Linked DNA regions of Homo sapiens: region 2 is linked to region 1. A link means that fine-mapping ties the variant in region 1 to the expression of a gene that starts in the linked region. Tissue or cell type: whole blood. Region 1 holds a variant in brackets; the other region holds the start of a gene. All regions are shown on one strand. Distances are from middle to middle.

What was found. PIP is the estimated chance that this variant, and not a neighbour inherited with it, causes the effect.
Region 2: SPART starts here. The variant in region 1 is fine-mapped to the expression of SPART in whole blood (INTERVAL, PIP above 0.99).

The regions. Positions count from the first base shown.
Region 1 is chr13:36,320,098-36,325,474 of GRCh38, forward strand. All of the region lies in intron 5 of SPART (spartin), which reads right to left. Among named protein-coding and RNA genes, the nearest start is that of SPART, 24 kb to the right of the region's middle. RefSeq lists enhancers at 1-530, 1,233-1,935, 1,936-2,637, 4,175-4,469. The variant T/C (reference allele first, on the strand shown) is at 2,953.
Region 2 is chr13:36,343,835-36,349,211 of GRCh38, forward strand. SPART (spartin) reads right to left here and starts at 2,560. Exons shown (of 9, transcript NM_015087.5): 1 at 2,391-2,560. SPART-AS1 (SPART antisense RNA 1) reads left to right here and starts at 2,597. Exons shown (of 5, transcript NR_045181.1): 1 at 2,597-2,673. RefSeq lists a silencer at 2,409-2,458.

The DNA.
Region 1 (5,377 bases):
TGCTGCTGCTTTAATACTTTTAGAGGCCCTCAAAATCACAAACTATGCTCAACTCACTCTCTACAGTTCTCATAACTTCCAAAATCCATTTTCTTCCTCATACCTGACGCATATACTTTCTGCTTCCCGGCGCCTTCAGCTGTACTCACTCTTTGTTGAGTCTCCCACAATTACCGTTGTTCCTGGCCCAGACTCCAATCCGGCCTCTCGCATTATTCTGGATACCACACCTGACCCCCATGACTGTATCTCTCTGATCCACCTGACATTCACCCCATTTCCCCAAATTTCCTTCTTTCCTGTTCCTTACCCTGATCACGCTTGATTTATTGATGGCAGTTCCACCAGGCCTAATCGCCACACACCAGCAAAGGCAGGCTATGCTATAGTACAAGCCACTAGCCTGCCTCTTAGAACCTCTCATTTCCTTTCCATCGTGGAAATCTATCCTCAAGGAAATAACTTCTCAGTGTTACATCTGCTATTCTACTACTCCTCAGGGATTATTCAGGCCCCCTCCCTTCCCTACACATCAAGCTCGAGGATTTGCTCCCACCCAAGACTGGCAAATTAGCTTTACTCAACATGCCCCGAGTCAGATAACTAAAATACCTCTTAGTCTAGGTAGACACTTTCACTGGATAGGTAGAGTCCTTTCCTACAGGGTCTGAGAAGGCCACTGCAGTCATTTCTTCCCTTCTGTCAGACATAATTCCTCAGTTTAGCCTTCCCACCTCAATACAGTCTGACAACAGACAAGCCTTTATTAGTCAAATCAGCCAGCAGTTTTTCAGGCTCTTAGTATTCAGTGAAACCTTTATATCCCTTACGGTCCTCCATCTTCAAGAAAAGTAGAATAGACTAAAGGTCTTTTAAAAACACACCTCACCAAGCTCAGCCACCAACTTAAAAAGGACTGGACAATACTTTTACCACTTTCCTTTCTCAGAATTCAGGCCTGTCCTCGGAATGCTACAGGGTACAGCCCATTTAAGCTCCCGTACAGACGCTCCTTATTAGGCCCCAGTCTCATTCGAGACACCAGACCAACTTAGACTGTGCCCCAGAAAACCTGTCATCCCTACTATCTTCTGTCTACTCATACTCCTATTCACCGTTCTCAACTACTCATACATGCCCTGCTCTTGTTTACACTGCCAGTTTACACTGTTTTTCCAAGCCATCACAGCTGATATCTCCTGGTGCTGTCCCCAAACTGCCACTCTTAACTCTTGAAGTAAATAAATAATCTTTGCTGGCAGGACTATGCTGAATCTCCTTAGGCGCTCTCTAATCAGATATCCTGAGTCGTCCCAATTCTTAGACCTTTTATACCTGTTTTTCTCCTTCTGTTATTCCATTTAGTTTCTCAATTCATCCAAAACCGTATCTAGGCCATCACCAATCATTCTACACGACAAATGTTTCTTCTAACAACCCCACAATATCACCCCTTACCACAAGACCTCCCTTCAGCTTAATCTCTCCCACTCTAGGTTCCCACGCCGCCCCTAATCCCGCTTGAAGCAGCCCTGAGAAACATCGCCCATTCTCTCTCCATATCACCCCCCAAAAATTTTTGCTGCCCCAACACTTCAACACTATTTTGTTTTATTTTTCTTATTAATATAAGAAGTCAGGAATGTCAGGCCTCTGAGCCCAAGCCAAGCCATCGCGTCCCCTGTGACTTGCACATATACGCCCAGATGGCCTGAAGTAACTGAAGAATCACAAAAGAAGTGAATATGCCCTGCCCCACCTTAACTGATGACATTCCACCACAAAAGAAGTGTAAATGGCCGGTCCTTGCCTTAAGTGATGACATTACCTTGTGAAAGTCCTTTTCCTGGCTCATCCTGGCTCAAAAAGCACCCCCACTGAGCACCTTGCGACCCCCACTCCTGCCCGCCAGAGAACAAACCCCCTTGGACTGTAATTTTCCTTTACCTACCCAAATCCTATAAAATGGCCCCACCCTTATCTCCCTTTGCTGATTCTCTTTTCGGACTCAGCCCACCTGCACCCAGGTGAAATAAACAGCCATGTTGCTCACACAAAGCCCGTTTGGTGGTCTCTTCACACGGACGTGCATGAAACTCAGCACTTTGGAAGGCCAAATTGGGCGGATCACCTGAGGTCAGAAGCTCGAGACCAGCCTGGCCAATATGGTGAAACTTTGTGTTTACTAAAAATACAAAAATTAGCTGGGTGTGGTGGTGTGCACCTGTAGTCCCAGCTACTCAGGAAGCTGAGGCAGGAGAGTCACTTAAACCCTGAAGGCAGAGTTTGCAGTGAGCTGAGATAGCGTCACTGCACTCCGACTTGGGTAACAGAGCGAGACTCTGTCTCAAAACAAAACAAAACAAAACACAAAAACACAGAAGTCCCAAATCACAGCTTTCTCTCCTGGTAAAAAGCTAGCTGAACCCTAAGATTATATAGAACCCAACTTTTCTGGTAAGTTTTAATAATTTTTATCATGAGAAATATGAGTTTAAAACACTGATCACTGATCTTTTTATTTTCAGCTTTTGATAGTCTTTATTTCTGGCTAAGAGAGGGGGAAAATTGGCAGAAAATTGGCTAGCACATGGCTACTACTGAATTTCCAATCATATGACATGTATCTTATGTTTGACGTAGTCCTCTAAAAACCTAGAAATGATTTGTCTTAGCACTTAACCACCCTATACCCATCAAAGTATAAATTGAATATATGATTGCTCTTTGATGTTTTGTTCATTCTATATAATTTATGCCAGAATAAAGGTCTTTGTGGATCTGACAGCTGGAAGACTGTACTAGGCCAATGGAGTCCCAGAAATAATCTACTGAAGAATAGGAGGACTTGTTTGTCTATTCTTTAACAGACTGAATTAACCAAAATGGAAAAGTTTTTGCTAGGGCCTAGAAGCACAAAATGGTAGCAAAAAATGCATAATCTTGGAGAAA[T/C]CTTAGGGAGGCATCATAGTTGCCTCCGTTCTGCTCACTCTCAACCCTAGGATGATATGTTGGAATAGGTAGGCAGAAAGTGATCATTCCGTCTCACTCCATGTCAACTGTTTGCCTAGCATTCCAGAGTCCATCTGTAAATTAAATTGGGAAAGACTAGGGAGTTGAGAGGGGACATTCAAATACCCTTGATGATGTTTTGCTATCTCACAACCACTAAAGTGTTTCAGAATGGTTGAAGGTAGATTGCTCCAAAGGTGGGCTCCATCAGTTTATTGTCAGCAACCCTCTACCTCCTTCCAAATTAGCTTACTAGGCTCTACTCGATTGATACTGCATAGCCGCTGCCTTCTTAAAGTGTTAAGTCTAGGTTTCTCAAGCCTATACAGGTAAACTTTCAGCATGGTTGTTTTACTTTTTTTACCTTTTACATTAGGAGAACCTCAGACTAGCTTTTAGTGATCTTTACTTATTCTTTGACAGTGGACAGGCACCAATTATGGGCTAAGATGAATGAGCTCAATTTATATCCCTGGTTACTCATTTTGTACATAGACTGAATCAGTCAGGTAACAATAGTCTCTTGATAGATCAGATAATTTTCCCTGGAGTAAATCTTTATTAATTTTCTGCCCCCCTTTGTTTTACTTGTACCATAAACATTTGACGAACTACTCGTTCTACCTATTAAAAAGCTCATAAAGAGACATATACGCTGATAGGCAGTTAAATAGTTTACAGTTACCAACTATGAGGACATTACTAGAACCCCAGCCCTGAAGGTATAGAATAAAAAGGAAAAGAGGTACTGGCACGAAGAAACTGAGGTCTTAAGTAATAAAGAAGTCCTCTGAGTGTTACCAGAACACAGTTTTTGCTTGTTTTAAAATTATGCACTGCTGAAAGTTCTTTTGAAATCTACAAAGAGACCTCTTCCCAGGATTAACTGGCTGTACTGCTTCCGGTAGCACCATGGTGTGCTATCTATAGTACCTAGGAGGCCTGAGATTTAGTGGCAGCTGATGAAAAAATTTCTGAAGATGACCACAAACAGTGCCTGCTATTCTGAATGTTAATCTTTCCACAAGATCTTGACATTCTTCCCAGAGGGAAGTGGGGTCTATGTCACATTCCTTGCATCTGGGCTGGCTTGTTGTTTGCTTTTAACAACAAATTTCCAAATGATGTTGGAAATTTCCAAGAGTATGTCAGAAATGGTAATGCAGCTTCTGTCTGTTTGCTGGATGATTCACATTTGAAGCCCCAAGTCACTAGGTAGAAGCCAGACTAGCCTAAGGCCACCATGCTAGGTGGAAGTCCAGCCACAAGAGGCCATGTGTAGGCACTCTATTTGGCAGTCCTAGACTTTGACCTCTCCCAGCCTAGATGCCAGAGGTGTCAGTAATGATTCCAGTCTTCAGCTTATTGTCAAGTCACTAGCTAGCCTTTGAGTCTTCCCAGATGAAGCCCTTAGATACCATGAAAGAGATATAAGCCACTCCTGCTGTGACCTTTCCAAATACCTGGCCCACTGAATTCCACAGAAACAAATGTTTGTTGTTTTGTGCCTTTGGGTTTGGGGCAGTTTGTTACATAGCAGTAGTAAATGGAACAAACTTGTAACAGTATTTTCACTTGCGTGCATGTGAAGAGACCACCAAACAGGCTTTGTGTGAGCAACAAGGCTGTTTATTTCACCTGGGTGCAAGCGGGCTGAGACCGAAAAGAGAGTCAGCGAAGGGAGATAAGGGTGGGGCCGTTTTATAGGATTTGGGTAGATAAAGGAAAATTACAGTCAAAGGGGATTTGTTCTCTGGCAGGCAGGAGTGGGGGTCGCAAGGTGCTCAGTGGGGGAGCTTTTTGAGCCAGGATGAGCCAGGAAAAGGACTTTCACAAGGTAATGTCATCACTTAAGGCAAGGACCAGCCATTTTCACTTCTTTTGTGGTGGAATGTCATCAGTTAAGGCAGAGGAGGGCATTTTCACTTCTTTTGTGATTCTTCAGTTACTTCAGGCCATCTGGGCATATACGTCAAGTCACCGCGGATGTGATGGCTTGGCTTGGGCTCAGAGGCCTGACAAGTATAAATTCCAAAAACTTGGGAAAACGACCTTTGAATTTAGTGTGTTGGGGTAACAAGCAAGTTTTCTGAATGATGGCCTCCTAATAATAATGCTTAGCAGCCTATAAAGTTGGGGGGTAGGGTAGTAAAAGTGAAAAGATTTTTCATTGCAGTTTCTTTGTAAATCTCTTTCAAGTCAATTTTAACTATCGCAACTACATTTTAAAATTTGGCTCTATCTTTTTTTCTTGTCTCAAGCATAGTTCTTTGGCACTAGGAAAAGTATTTTATTAGTTCCTAGCAAGCTAATTATTTTAGCTTGTTGGTTTTTTATGTTGAAGATTTCCTCTGCTTTAGACATC
Region 2 (5,377 bases), 24 kb after region 1:
TAAATGATACATTCAAATCAGTTCATGGATCAGAAGATTATCTGTCAAGAAAATTAAATGAGCTCTCGCCTGTAATCCCAGCTACTGCACAGGCTGAGGCCGGAGGATCGCTTGGGCCCAGAAGTTCAAGGTTGCAGTGAGCTATGACTGCACCACTGCACTCCAACCAGCCTGGGTGACAGAGCAAGACCTTGTCTCTTTAAAAAAAAAAAAAAAAGAAAGAAAGAAAAGAAAAATGAAAATGAAAATTAGATGAGATGTGTTTGATTCCAAATCTAAAAGTCCTACTATGTTTACAAGTCAGCAGAGTGAGGGAGGGGTGAAGAAAACCCAGAGTGTCCCGTCGTAGAAAGTCATGTGGCTTAAATCTTCAATAGGTAGCATTTGAAAGTAGAAGCGAGGCATAATGAAGGAATATAGCTAGAAGCAATATTTACCTTGGGTATACGTTTATTTCTAAGCTTATTTTACATACGGTGTGATGAAAGATTTCCTAATAATGTGTCAATGGAGGGAACAAGATGGCTACTGAGAAAGAAGAGTGTGCCTGTGTGTAGGGGTGGAGTGGGAGGGCTAATTCCACAGGATTGCTTAATAACCTTCCTTGCTACATCTCCATCTTAAAGAGAAAAAAAGGATACACGAGAGAAGAGCCTGGGTATCTAGAGGTTATATATAAGTCTAATGGTCAATTTCAGTCTAATCTCTGGGGAATCTCAACACAGAAAGAAAAAGGTTTATATTAAAATATCACATTTTTATTTTGTGACTGGGATTTGCTATATCCTCAGCGGTCTCAGAAAATACATTTTACAGAAATAAGGATTGGAGGATGGTGACTTAAAAAAAAGCCTATTCTATTCCTAAGCACAATTAAGTGTCAATCAAGTGTCCTGAAAAGATAAAAACCATTATCACATTATTTCACATTATTTAATTTTCAAAGTTAAGAAGACAAAGTCTTTGAAATGACAATCTGATGTATTAAACAGTACCTACACCAGTGTACAGTCTTCAACAACAAACCAAAATCTGTTCCGATACCAGTAGTTCACCTAAATTCTAATTTTTTAACGTTCTAATAAAACACATTTATTTCAACATAACTACATGTATGTCTGTGTATGTCTTAAAAAATACCCGAGAAAAGGTAAAATTCTGCATTAAAATACCTAGCAATTTAGTTCGATTCCATAAACACTGAAAGAAGTAACACTCTCACTTAACAGTCAACATTACAAGCAGTCTTTAATAATACCGCATTTAACTCCTTAGAGCTAGCACAAGTTGATCTAATGCCTATTTGGCCCTTTACCAAAAAAGCGGAGGGGGCTTTGTCTAACACCTGTATACACCTCCCTCCGTAGCATCCCGCTCATTCTAGCTTCTTAGGGAAACCATAGACAACGACGTTTCAGAGAGTGCCAGAGGTGAAGCCGACCCGAAACCACATTACAGAAAGGCTTCCTGTTTCAAACAGGTCCAATAAAGCCACCAAATTAAGTCTACGATTATAAAGAACTGCGAATCAGAAAATAATTCCATATAGGTGCAGTCTTCTATTACTTTTTTCCCCACTTTCGGAAATTTCAAAGAAAAATTGCTACATTCTTAAATATGAGGCCATTATTTCAAAGGCTGTAACAACCTGGAACGCAAATTCGTTAAATTATGATACAATAAGGCCAACCTCGAGGATCCTCGGTGGACTACTAGCGCACTTCCTTACAATTAGAAAGTGAAAAACTGGGTCAGCCCTAGAGTCACGCAATAATGCTGCGTCACGAAACTGCGCATTCCAAGAGAAACTTTTCTCAGGCCCAGAATTAAGTCGGAGGGATCCGCCGCGCAGCTCAATCCCTAGGAAGCATGAAAGAATGTATTGTAAAGAGTAAAATCACGCGCAATCCATCCCAATATAACCGCAGTTGTTCGTGGGCCTTCTTGCAGAGAAAGGCTGCCCAACCTTGACGGGGCCATGGGCGCTGCGGGAGGGCAAAAGACCACAGAGATCTGCGAAGCCAAAGTAAACAACGGGGTTGGGGCGGCGAGAATGATCAATAGCGATGCTCCGAAAGGACTCCGCGATAGGAATCGAGCGGGAAGGATTCCCTCCATCCTAACAGTCCATGGGTTAAGAGGCCGAAGCTTCCCTAAATACCACACTCCCGCGAGAGAAGGGACTGAGAACAACTTCTCAAACTATTCTCTCTCGAAATCGCTCCCTTCCTCGAAAATTCCATCTCTGAGACTCGGATGAGGTCCCCACCCCCTCCACCCTTGTCCCGTGACCGTCGCCCGCTCAGCCTCCCAGCCGAGTCCGCGGGGCCTGGGGCGCCCACCCCGCCCACCCAAGGGACCGCGCAGGGGTGAACTCCCCCGCGCCCCACCTGCGCCTTCCAGACCTCGGGCGCCCCGGCGTTGCCTCGAGAGCTCCCTGCGCGGCCGCCGCGGCACGGACCAGCTCCCACTCCCTTACACTGGGCGCCGCTGCGCTCGCCGGGGGCCGGTCCCGAGGTTCCCAAGGCCTCGCGCGCGCGCTTGCCGTGGCAACCAAGACGTTCCACGACGCGCGCTCTCGAACGCTTCGCGTCACGCGGCCGCGCGGCCCCGCCCGTCGGCCTCGCTCCCGCCACAGAGCCCGCAGCACGCCGCCGCCGCAGCCTAGGTCACGTGAGTACCCACGCGCGCGTCTTGCCAGCGGATTCATCACCGGCCTGCTCAGACTAGGTTCTGCCCACTCTGACCTTCTAAATGGTACGTGGGAGGACGTCCGTCCCCTTCGGACCCAAGAGTCACCGTAACACTCTAGAAGGGGAGAAAAGGAGCGAGGGCGGCAGGCGACAGAGAACCTCGCGAGTCAGCGGCCCCGCGCAGACCCCCCCAGGCACGGTCCCCTGCGGCCACGTCGGCTGCTCGGCGCCTGCGCAATCTCTTTCTCTCCAGCGAAACCGAGGCCTCCGGAGAGCCTAGTAGAGAGTGTGGGCAGTGAGCGCTTGTAGCCGCTAGAGGGAGCGCTGGGCACAGTGCACGAGAGACAATAAAGGCTGATTATCCCCTCAATGTCTCTGCAGCCTGAGCTTTGTGACTTCTGTATCCAGAGCACAGTTAATTTCCAAAAGCCCGCCTGCACCACGTGTTTTAAGTCTTGGTGTGTGTGTAAAGTCTATATCACTATCATAAAACTGTTAGTTCCTGATTCCGGGATACAAAGAGTAAAATCAAGATGAACATACTTTACCCTTCTTGACAAGTGTTTTTAAATTAGTAAAATATTGTAGATGACAGACTCTTCAATAGGGCTGCCTTAGGGAAAAAAAAACAGAAAAAAGAAAAAGCAGTATGTACTTGCCCGGAGCATTTAGAACCAGTTTTGTTGTTGTTGTGTTTTTGTTTTGTTTTGAGACAGAGTCTTACTATGTTGCCCAGGCTGGAGTGCAGTGGCATGATCTCGGCTCACTGCAACCTCTGCTTCCCAGGTTCAAGCGACTCTCATGCCTCAGCCTCCAGAGAAGCTGGAATTACAGCTGTGCACCACCACTCCCGTCTAATTTTTGTATTTTTAGTAGAGACGGGGTTTCACCATATTGGCCAAGCTGGTCTTGAAAGCTTGACCTCAAGTTAGCCAGGCTGGTCTCGAATTCCTGACCTCAAGCGATCCACCTGCCTCAGTTTCCCAAAGTGCTGGGATTACAGGCGTGAGTCACCGCGCCTGGCCTTAGGACCAGTTAAGTGACTCCCTCAAATCTCAGAAAGGTAGCAGTCAGTCATCCCAAAAAGCAAAACCTATTAGGAATATATTAATACAGTGGTTTCAAAATGATTTTGCTCTTATACCCCCAAAGGAGTCCCCAAAGACTATGACTGTATTCTCACTTCCACGTTTTTGGATTGACCATCACAATTTCTCATCTGACTTAAATAGTTACAAAAGAAGCAACTTCTGTTTTATTATAAATTAACATTTTAAAATAAAAGTTATATAACTTTTAAATGTAGCCAGTGGAATCTAAATACCAATTTAATATCTAAAATCATCAATTTTTAAAACTACATGAACAAGCTTTTAACAGAAGGAAATTTTACATCATTTCTTTTCTTCTTGAACTCATATTTCCGTTCCATATTGTGAAATTGTATGTCAATATTTCTTTAGTCTTGCAAATATTGGCCAGGCTTGGTGGCTTATGCCTGTAGTCCCAGCTACTCCAGAGGCCGAGGCAAGAGAATCGCTTGAGCCCAGGAGTTCGAGACCAGCCTGGGCAACATGACGAAACCCGTCCCTACAAAAAAACACAAAAATTAGCTGGGCATGGTGGTACACATCTGTAGTCCCAGTTACTCCAGAGGCTGAGGCAGGAAGATCACCTGAGCTGGGGAGGCAGAGGCAGCAGTGACTGAGATTGTGCCACTGCACCCCAGCCTGGGCAATAGAGCCAGACCCTGTACCCCCTGGCCCCCACCAAAAAAAGAAAGGAAATCTTTTATTGGTCATCTACTCTACTTCTTTACATTTAAAAAGTACATACATTTAAATAGAATTTTTTAAATTTCCAACAGCCATAAAGATGAATGTGTTTAAAACATGTAGAATTTCTATACACAAAATTGTTATATATAGAAAACCCTAAAGAATTTACTACAACACTGTTAGAACTAATAAATGAGTACATCAAGGATTCAGGACAACAGGTCAACATACAGAAATCAATAGTATTTCTATACACTAGCAATGAACATTTCAAAAATGAAATTAATTCCATTCATAATATTATCAAGAAGAATAAAATACTTAGAAATAAATGTAATAAGTGCAAGACTTGTATGCTGAAGACCATACAACATTGCTGAAAGAACTTAAAGACCTAAATAAATGGAAAGACATCCCATGTTAAAGGGTTGAAAGACTTCATATTGGGAAGATGGCAGTACTTCTCAAATGGACCTCCAGACGCAACACAATCCGTGTCAAGATCCCAAATGACTTTTTTGCAGAATTTTGCAAGCTGATCCTAAAATTCATACAATCCAGGGAAATATAAGGACCCAGAATAGCCACATGAGCACACACACACAGATCTTGAAAAAGAAGAATGAAGTTGGAGGACTGACACATTCCAATTTCAAAACTTAACTACAAAGCTGCAGGCCAGGCATGGTGGCTCACACCTGTAATCCCAGCACTTTGGGAGGCCGAGGCAGGCGGATCACCTGAGGTCGGGAGTTCGAGACCAGCCCGACCAACATGAAGAAACCCGGTCTCTACTAAAAATACAAAATTACCTGGGCGTGGTGGCGCATGCCTGTAATCCTAGCTACCCAAGAGGCTGAGGCAGGAGACTCACTTGAACCCGGGAGGTGGAGGTCACCGTGAGCC